Regions from separate parts of the Homo sapiens genome. Here region 2 is linked to region 1. Evidence: fine-mapped expression QTL. A gene starts in region 1. The other region holds a variant in brackets. All regions are shown on one strand. Distances are from middle to middle.

What was found. PIP is the estimated chance that this variant, and not a neighbour inherited with it, causes the effect.
Region 2: its variant is the best candidate, but not a certain one, in a credible set for the expression of MIF-AS1 in cerebral cortex (GTEx, PIP 0.51).

The regions. Positions count from the first base shown.
Region 1 is chr22:23,896,297-23,901,673 of GRCh38, forward strand. It overlaps MIF-AS1 (MIF antisense RNA 1), which reads right to left and starts at 2,634. Exons shown (of 3, transcript NR_038911.1): 1 at 2,548-2,634.
Region 2 is chr22:23,146,764-23,152,140 of GRCh38, forward strand. It overlaps RAB36 (RAB36, member RAS oncogene family), which reads left to right. Exons shown (of 11, transcript NM_004914.5): 3 at 3,300-3,391. It also overlaps a transcript of RSPH14 not described here. Among named protein-coding and RNA genes, the nearest start is that of RAB36, 4.0 kb to the left of the region's middle. RefSeq lists enhancers at 2,710-3,210, 3,211-3,711. The variant A/C (reference allele first, on the strand shown) is at 3,132.

The DNA of each region.
Region 1 (5,377 bases):
CCCTCGTCTACCTCCCAGCTGGGGGAGACATGGGGGGCATGGGATGGCTCCAGCTGTAGCGGGAAGGTCCCACTCCTCTCAGCCTGGCTTTCAGGCTTGAGGTTTCCTTCTTGGATCTGAGTACCTGTGGTGTAACAGGCACCCTCCTCGGCCCTGGCCTTTATCACATCCCCTCAGCTCCTGGGTGCCCCCAGCCCCAGCCTCCCAAGGCCTGAGGCTGAGCTTTGCCCAGGACCCCCAGTTCCCCCCACAACAAACTCTTTCTGCCTCGGGCCCCACACCCCACCAAGCCCTGGCTGGCCCCCTGGCTCCCACCCCGCCTCAGCGGTCTTTGCTCTCGGCTGTGTCACAGATAGGGAGAGCAGGGGCGCAGTGCCCCATGAGCATCTAATGCAACTCCCTCATTTCACAGATGAGGACACTGACCCCAGGATCCAGGGCATGGTCATACACTCAATGCCATGCCCCCTGCAAGGGCCCTGTGGCCTCACATGAGCAAGTTAGACTCTGAGGGCCGAGGAGATGGGCAGGGCAGGCTGGGCACCTGCTGTGTGAGGGCAGGAGGGTTGGTGAGAGCTGTCCTCCAAAAGCAGGTGAGTGTCTGAGGTTCTGTGGCCCCCTGGGGGCATCCACAAGGTCATGGGTCCTTGGACTCCAGGAACAAAGGGGGTGTCTGTGGGTCAGGGACCTATCCGCTTGCCCTGCCCAAAGTGTTCCTAAGTCCCCTGGGACTAATAACCGGCCTGCCTGCTGGGGAGGTCAGCTGCTACATCCCACCTTCAAGCCACACCTGCCCCCATTGACCCCCATCCCATGGCCAGCTCCATTTCCTCCAAAGCACAGGCTCCACTGCCCACCAGGTGGTGGGTCTCTTCCTCAAACCCCTGTTTGACTGCCCCAGGACCTGCAGGGTCAGCCTTGGAAATGCATTTCCAAGTAACGCCACAAACTCTGAGGTACAGGACAGACAGGTGTGGGGTCCATCTGCCTGTTCTCCATCACTCTGGTGGTACTATGTCATCTGCTGAGAAAGACCCCCGGCCTACAGGGTGACCCTCACTCTCCTCAGGGCCACTGTTTGCAACAGACAGACAGCCTGGCAGGCCTTGAACCTCATTTTGTAGGTTCAAGGCCTGTCCCCCATCTGTCCACTATAAGCCTCACACACACCATTCTTCTGGGATACCTTCCCTGAGGCCACCTGGTCAACACCCACAGGCCCCTTTGCTTCAGCCCAGGTCCTGTTAGCTGAGGTTTCCATTTCTGGACATAGCTCCACCCAGTTCTGTGATCCGTTGGGCTGGTGGCACCAGGGGCCCCTCGGTACTTGTCCATTCTGGACAGCCCAGCAATGTAGGCTTTTCCCAAGACTTCCCACCCTGCATGTGTCCCACCTCATCCCCTCCAGGAATTTTGCTTTGTTGCAGAGACTCCCTCCCCACCACCCCCCACCGCCAGCCTCCAGACCCCACTCCCTTCTGGGAGCCCGATTCCAGCAAGATCAGGATCAGGCTCCCACTCTGCTCCTTCTACTGGCCTCAGTTTTTCCCATCTGTGAAATGAAGGGATTCATCAGAAGTCCTTCCCACATACTCAATCACGGAGGCATGACAGGGACATCTCACATCCTCAGAGGCACGGTTAATCCAAGGAATGCCATGGGAAGGGAGGAGACAGCAGGTGGCCTGTGCCTGCACTCAGGTCTTGATAAATTGTGAAATCTCTCCCTCACCCCTTCCTCGGAGGGCACTATTGTTCCTGATGTGCCAGCCTTGATGGCAGTGGATAGGGAGGCAGGGACAGAGACAATGAGGAAGTGTGGTTAGGTATCTACTTAGAAGTCTCCAGATGGAGCCGGGAAGTGCTAGGAGGCCAGTGAGGCCAGTCTGTGCAGCAGGGCAAACGAGTGGTATCCTGCTGGGATGCAACTCAAATGCCTTCACTGGGAACTGCTCCCCCACCAGCCCCACACTGAAGGGCTGGCTCTACCACTCACAGGAGCTGGCAGGGCAGGCAATGAGACAACCCTACTGCCTCTAATGCAGTAGATAAAATTAATGCAGGGCCAACCCTCATATCAGAGTGGTTTTTCAGTTACCTGGACAAGTGCCAAGGGAGGGGCCCCTGGGGCCACCAGCCCAAAGACCACAGAACTGAGTGGAGCTCTCTATGTGCAGGAGACACACACAGAGATCAACTGATCCTTGGAGCTTGGGAGATTTCCAGGATTTCTGGGCCACTGACACTGTTTCTATAAAGCCCTCTTTGGCCATCTCAGTTCCTTTCCAGGCTAAGCAGTGAAAGCCAAGTCTTAGTTCTCCAGGCCTGGGCCTTCCTGAGTAATTTACAGGACTGGTGTGAGGGACAATGTCAACCCACCAGCCAACTGCCCAGATTTCCCCTCCTGGCGAGTGAGGCCAAGCCACTTCATTTCTATGTTTGAAGCCCATGTAAAAGAAACAGAGATTGTCAGTTTCAGAAACCGACTCTGTCCCTTCAGTCCTGGAACCTCAGGCCTCATCTGGTGACTATGGGGTCTCAACTTACAGTTTAGCTCTCAAAACAGCCAGACAGAGCACCAAATTGAAAGGCTACAAATGAGAAGTATCGTCCCCACCGCCCCAGTGACTTGGCTTCTTGCGTACCTAGTTCTCTTCTCAGTTTAATAGGTAATAGATTTATATGGCTCAAATTCAAAGCATGCCCAGGGGCTCCAGAGAGAAGGCTCCCTCCTGTTGCCTCCCTCCACAGGGTAATCCTTTCTCAAATTCACTAGATCACTGCATCCAGACAGGGAGACACTGGATCCCTCGTTCATCATGGCTGCGTTCTTACCCCTCCCTAACTCCTTCCCAAACATAGCTACATCCCTTCCACTGTTATATAACCCTCCAATTTTGGCCGGTCAGGGAGATGGATTCAAGACTTATCTCCCATTCTCCTTGGCTGCAGCACCTGAATAAAGCCCTTCCTCCCGGCAGTGATTGGCTGTGCAGCATGCAATGGGACCCAGACAAAACCCCTGGTGTTTCAGTAACACATTCAGACTATGGAACAGATTAACCCCGGCTCCCTAGAATTTGTTTTCTGAAGAACAAACAAACAAGGCAATAATGTCTTATGAAAAGACATCAGTAACCTTAAGCCTGTAAACCCCATCCATCTGTAGGGCACCCCATCTCACAGCAAAGCATGGGTGACAGCTGTGTGCTGAGAAGAGTCGGAAAAGGAGCCATGCTTCCAAGAATGTCTCCCTCATAACATGATGAGATGAGTCCTTAGTGAATTGCCAACCAAAACAAAAAACACAGCTGCTAAAAAAGAAGGTTCCTCCTTTGGAATCCTTGTACTACCATATCAAAATATTGAGAAGGAGCATCTCTTGTATTGACAGTAAGGATGCTGATGACTATTAGTGAATAAAAAGCCAGAATGAAGGACATGAACTTACACACATTTAACATTTCGGCACAGGTCAAGTAACTACAATAACCTATATACAAGACAAACAAGACAAAGTATATTTAGAATACATGCGATGAGTATTGATGCAGAAATGGACATTTCTCAGAATAAGATATGACTTTACAGATACCATACAGAGAATATGATTTCATGCAGATGGAGAAGATGTGGTGGGAGTTGTGGGAGAGCAATAGAAAATACATTTCCTGGCTGGGTGCAGTAGCTCACATCTGTAATCCCAGCACTTTGGGATGCCAAGGCCAGGAGTTCAAGACCAGCCTGAGCAACGTGGTGAGACCCTGGTCTATATAAAATATATTTTTAAAAAGTTTCCTGTACCTAGAAACAAATCCAAGATGTACTCTACAGAGAACCTCTACAGAGAAAACTAACACCCTGAACGTTATTGGAGAACTAAATAAATGAAGAGACTGACCATGTCTCTGTGTTGGGAACAGGCCCCCCAAAATCTGGCCATAAACTGGCCCCAAAACCGGCCATAAACAATATCTCTGCAGCACTGTGACATGTTCATGATGGCCATAACACCCATGCTGGAAGGTTGTCGGTTTACCAGAATGAGGGCAAGGAACACCTGGCCCACCCAGGGCGGAAAACTGCTTAAAGGCATTCTTAAACTACAAACAATAGCATGAGTGATCTGTGCCTTAAGGACATGTTCCTGCTGCAGATAACTAGCCCAACCCATCCCTTTATTTTAGCCCATCCCTTTGTTTCCCATAAGGTATACTTTTAGTTAATCTAATATCTATCAATGCTAATGACTGGCTTGCTGTTAATAAATACGTGGGTAAATCTCTGTTTGGGGCTCTCAGCTCTGAAGGCTGTGAGACCCCTGATTTCCCACTTCACACCTCTATATTTCTGTGTGTGTGTCTTTAATTCCTCTAGCGCCGCTGGGTTAGGGTCTCCCCGATCGAGTTGGTCTCAGCATCTCTGTACTGGAGGCAATATTGTGCTCGTAACAGTTCTGTCTGGTTGATGATTCAGCACAGTCCCAATCAAAATTCTAACAGATTTTTCTATGGGAATTGACAACCTAATTCTAACATTTATATGAGACTCTAAATGACCAAGAAGAGTCAAAACATTTTCTTGTAGAAGGCAAGGTGTGAGGATTTGCTTTTTCAATGTTAAGACACATGATCAAGCTACACAATTAAGGCAAAGTGGAATCAGAACATGGCAGACAACAGACCAATGGAAAAAAGAGCAATCCAGAAACAGACCTCTCCACACACATGGACACAATATCAGACTGGGGGAGCATTGAAATCCACATGAAAAGAAGAACTCATTCAACTAGGGGTGCTGGGCAGCTGGCTACCATGTAAGGAGAAACATCAAACTGGGCTCCTATTTAACTCCCACACAAAAGTCAGTTCTACATAGATTACAGCCATAAAGAAAAGGCCACAAAGATCTTAAAAGATGGTGTAGAAGAATATCATCTTTATGATTTAAGTAAGATAAAATGAGTACATACAATAAGGAAAGATTGACACACTATTAGTGAGACACCGTAAGAATGAAAGACATGCTACAATTTCTGCAACTTATCTTAATGCAAGTGAGCCCCAAAACTGGGGCTCAGCCTGAGAGCGTTCTTGGCTTTGCACAGGAAATAATTTGAGAGTGACCCAACAGAAAAGAGTGAAAGCAAAGCAAGTTTATTAGAGCAACAGAGTACAGAAAAGTGGGTTTCATAGAGCATCCATACAGGTGGATGGGGTTTACAGGGCTACCCCATAGGCAGAGCAGCACTCCTGGACTACCAGCTATCTATATGTATAGCTACTTCTTATTATATGCTAAATAAGGGGCAGGTTATTCATGAATTTTCTAGCAAAGGGATCCGGAGTTCCTGGAACTGAGGGTTCCTCCCCCTTTT
Region 2 (5,377 bases), 750 kb before region 1:
AAGTAAAGCAGGTGAATCAAGGAGGTCTGTCCATTGTCAGATTTACCTTGAGGAGCTGGGAGACTGGTCACTGACTGCCCAAGGTGGGACCGCAAGTTAATGGTGACACTGGGCAGCAGTGTGGCCTGGAGGTTATAAGGGCTGGGATTTTGCAGCCAGACAGTCCTTGATGTGAATCCTTCATTCTGATTCTGTCATTAAGCTGTGTGGCTGTGGGCAAATTACTCAACCTCTCAGAGCCACTGTTACATGAAGGTAATTCCTCTCATATTGGGTGCCTGGCTCATGGTATGCAGGAGCTCCCCTGCAGTCATAGTTGCTGTTGTTCTCATCATCGTTGTTGTTATCAAAACAGCATTCCAGTTCCATGACCCCAAATCCAGGGCTCTCTCCTCTTGCCATTCCGCCTCTATGAGCTTGAAAACTCACAGCTCTCTTGTGTCTGTATTAAAATCCAATATTAATTGCAGCAGGGAATACAAATTGAGTACAACCTCCATAGGGGGCAGTGGACAATATTTACCAATATAGAAGATGACCCTGCCCTCTAAGATCCAGCCATTCTGTTTCTTTTTTCTTTTTTTTTTAGAGACAGGATCTTGCTCTGTCACCCAGGCTGGAGTGCAATGGTGCCATCATAATTCACTCCTCTAACTCCTGGGCTGAAGCAATCCTTCTGCCTCAGCCTCCCGGAGTAGCTAGGACCACAGGCATGTGCTACCATGCCTGGCTAATTTTTAATTTTTTTTAATAGAGATGAAGTCTTGCTATGTTGCCCAGGCTGGTCTTGAACCCCTGGCCTCAAGCAATCCTCCCACCCGGGCCTCTCAAAGCACTGGGATTATAGGTGTGGACCACCACAACTGGCCTTGCTATTCTATTTCTAGGAATTTACTTGGCAGATATTCTGGCATGGGTTTACAATGTGCATAAGGATAGGGGTTGGAGCAGTTTGTAAGAATAGAAGATAAGATACAACGTAAACATCCTCGGAGAGGGGACTGGTTAAACAAGTAATGCTTCCTGGCACAGACATGAGGAAGAATGAGGCAACCTCTTCAGGAGCTGACATGCAACGAGAGCCAAAGTAAACCGTTAAGTAAAAATGCAGGGCATGGAACAGAGTGCAGTAGAGTGTGTGCAGCACACTCCGGTGTGTGAAAACAAGGAGAGGGAGAAATGTCTATTTGTTTATATATGCAGAAAATATTTCTGGCAGGATATATAAGCCCCTACTCTCAGTGGTTGCCTCTGTGGCTTCGGACAGGTGCAGAGGGATAGATCCTCTCCATGGAATGGCCTTTTTTGCATCTTGGATTCTGTGGCCAGGCTGGTGAGGAGGAGGTGACTCTAGACAGGTCCTGGGTATTTGGAGTATGTGGCTCTTCCTCCTTCCCCCTTCTTTACCTTCCTCCCTAAGTTCCTTCTTCACACACCTACAGAGAAAGGCTTTGTGTCTCAGACCTGTGGACAGTTCCCCATGGGTTTTCCATCTCAACAGAGGCTCAGGCAATTATTCTCTCTGCAGAGCTTGACAGTGGTAACTAGGGATGACAGAGACTGGTCTTTCTTGAGTCAAAAGGAAGGAAAGTGTGATTGGCACAAAACAGTCCAGGTATCATGAGATGAAGAACCTCATTGGCAGAGCAGACGGCGAGGATCAGAGTTAAGGAGGGTTGCCTGACATCACACAGCTGCTCCTGGTACCTCTGGGATTTGACCTGGCCGTGTCTGGCTCCAGAGCACCCTACCCCAGGGAAGCAGCTTAGGGAATCCATCCTGGTTTCACAGGTGGCATTCTCCCCTCCTGCCCATAATAGTCAGGGATCAAGGCCACTGCTGGTCAAGTTCATCCTGCACCCCAGGGCCCTGAGAAATTCAGTCAGGTTGAGCAGGGTCTTCAGACTGCTTGCCAGGCAAGTCCTTCCCTTTATGCCATGTGCCTCAGTTTCCCTGTCTCTGAAATCAGCTCACACTTCTTACCCTGCAGCCTTCATTATCACAGTCTTCCAGCCATCCTGTAATGACCATTGTGTCTGAGCCAGTCCCTAGCTTAAAGCTGTCATGGAAGCTGACAGAAAGAAGCAGCCAGCTTGTTCATGGTAGCTGCTGCTCTTCTGCAGGAAAGTAGACTATCAGGCTAAGCTGCTCACCTGCATTATTCAGTTACTCCTCCAACGACCACATGAAAAGGTGCTATTATGAGCATCCCTGTTTAATATTTAAGGAAACTGGAGCTCGATAAGTTTCTGTAACTTGCCCTTTGCCAGTCTCCTTTCACCATCCCTGCTGCCTCAATCACAGCTGGAACTGAGAGGGCAGATGGGCCAGGCAGAGCCCGAATCCATGGTTGAGACACTGCGGCTGAGGGAGGGGAGCTGTGGATCCAAGCAGTGTTCAGAGGGACAGAGCAGGTGGCTGTGGCTGTGCAGGGGTGGGGGGCGGGGGGCGGGACCCTTGCCATACACAGATCACACCAACAGCCTCAATGGTGTCCTTCTCCCCACATCCTTGCCACATTCTGTATTTAGCCTGGGCCAATCCAATGGCAAAAAATAATGGTCATCTTTAGTTTGTTTAATCTCATTTTTTTCTAATTACAGACCAGGTGAGGGTGGGTGGGGTACGTGCAGTTTTTTCTGACCCTGAGGCCCATGCTCTTAAACCACTGCTCAGGTCTGCCTTCCAAGAAACGTGGACAGCAGAAAGCGCCTCCTAGGACATTTTCCAGGCACATGTATGCATGTTTTTAAAACAAAATGTCATCAGAGATTCATAGAAGGTATGGATTAGAGACAGGGTCTCACTCTGTCACCCAAGTTGGAGTGCAGTGGCATGATCATAGCTCACTGCAGCCTCTGTCTCTTGAGCTGAAGCAATCCTTCCACCTCAGCCTCCTCAGTATCTAGGACCACAGGCATGTACTACTGCACCTGGCTAATTGGATCTTGGAGGATCTTGGCACCAAAAGAGCTCCACTCGTCTCGCCCTGAGAGGGTTGAGACCCAGAGCAGACAGGCCTGTCACATGCATGCAGCAAGGGAACTGCGGCCCCAGGTGAGACACAGATCTCCAAGTCCCTGCCTGGGCTCGCCCCTCTGGACTCACAAGGCCCCAGAGCCTCAAGGCTG[A/C]GGAAATAGAAGATACACATGACAAATGGGTCAGGGAAAGCTAATGAGGCTGCCAGCTGTGAGGCCTAGGAAGGAAGGCTGGGAAGATCATCTCCCCTCACTGCTTGGCTACGAGGGCGGAGCCACAGCTTTGCAGGATGATGTGTCCGTCTGTCTGTCTCTTTGCAGTGGTACACGCCGGAAGCCTGTTTGCAGCTCAGGGAGCACTTCCACGGGCAGGTCAGCGCTGCCTGCCAACGCAGGAACACGGGGACTGTCGGGTGAGCCTGCAGGGTGTGGGATGGGGGAGCAGGTGGCAAGAAGGAATGAGTGCATGAAGCACGTGAAAGAATGAACAAATGAAACACACACACGAGGCTGGTGCAGCCCTGTACAGGCCTGAAGATGACTGGGGTTTTCTTTTTTTTTTCTTTTTTTTTTTTTTTGAGACAGAGTCTCGCTCTGTCGCCCAGGCTGGAGTGCAGTGGTGCGATCTCAGCTCACTGCAAGCTCTGCCTCCCGGGTTCATGCCATTCTCCTGCCTCAGCCTCCCGAGTAGCGGGGACTACAGGCGCCCGCCACCACGCCCGGCTAATTTTTTGTATTTTTAGTAGAGACGGGGTTTCACCATGTTAGCCAGGATGGTCTCGATCTCCTGACCTCGTGATCAGCCTGCCTCGGCCTCCCAAAGTGCTGGGATTACAGGTGTGAGCCACCGTGCCCAGCCAGATGACTGGGGTTTTCATCTGGCTTCAGTTAACACACCTGCCATATGGAACAACTTTCCCTCTTCTAAGTCACGCAGGTGATTTTTCAGCCTCAGGTCTTGGTACAAGTTCATTTCCTCTGTCTGGAATGTCTTTCCTAATCCCCTCGCTTCCCCTTCCCCTTCCCCTTCAGGTCTCAGCGTGTCAAGTCCTCTGGGAGCCTTCTCTGACCCCCCACTACCCTTGCCCCTGGACTGGGGAGGGTACCCCTCCTGGGTGCTCTTGTGCCCCCAAGAACTTATCTCACAGAATTGCAGGCTGGATTCCTCACTAGACCTAGCCCAAGAGGGCGAGGGCTGTGTCTGTCCTCTTCCTGCCGCGGCAGCTCCTGCCACCACTGGCAGAGGGATTGTGAAATAGTCATTCCTTCTTTTAACAAATAGGTACAAGGGCCTGCTTTTGCCCCTCTTCCTAAGGAGCTCATAGTCTGCTCAGGGAGTTGGCTGAGCTCACAGGGGTCACAGAGGTGCGATGAGGCTGCCAGAGAGCGCAGCTAGAGGTTCCCAAACTGCACAGAGTGGGTGAGGCAGAGCTGAGATCAGAATAGCCGAAGTGGCCATGGTGGTGGGATGAGAGTAATGGCATCTGTTGGGGAATGCTGGTGCCATATCAGGTGCTTCACACAGATGATCTCCCTGATCCCTTATGGCAGCACTGGAGGTGGGGAAACTGAGGATCAGAGGGTACCTGCTGTAAGACCTTGTCAACACCTTTACTCATTCATAGGAGAAATGGAGTCAGAACGAAAGGGCCCTCTGGGAGCAGGGTAGACACAATCCCTGCTCTCACGGACCTGGCAAGGTGACCTGCAGCCCAGGTCACCAGGTGACACAGTGGTGCCCTCTTGCTGTCTGCAGGCAGAGGAAGTGCCTGTCAGATATTTACCCAGGTTGGTTGCTGTGACCATTTGGCTCCTTGGGGATGAGCTGCAAAAACTCTTAAAGTGTTGTCAACAGTCCCAGGAAGCTGGGACAATGGCACCTGTAGTCCCAGTTACTCAGGAGGCTGAGGTGGGAGGATCACTCGAGCCAAGGAGTTTGAGACTACTAGCCTGGGCAACACAGCGAGACCCTGTCTCTAAAAAAATAATAAACAGTCCGAGAAACGCCTCTGCACAGAGTGTAGGACACACAGAGGGTGAGGGTGGCGGCTGCTCTTGGGGAACAGTGACCCACAGAGAGCCCAAGAACCTCAGAGCCGATTTGCCTCAAGCCACAGCCCGGATGCATAGAGCCTCAGCCCTGTTCGGGGTGTGCCCCTTGGCCTGTCGGACCCTTACAGATCTCTAAGTGAGCAGGGCACGGTGGTGTCATGGTCAGGGAGTGCCTGCTTGCAAGAGGCCGGAGCCCACATCGGCGCACAGCCCCGGGGGTGCATAGGAGGGTGAGGGGCTGCCCGTCCCTTTTGCCGGGGTCTCCCTGCACGTGGACCCTGTGTCTGCACCCTCAGCACAGCTCCCGGACAGCACAGACGTGCCCACGGCTGTTGGTTGGTTACCAC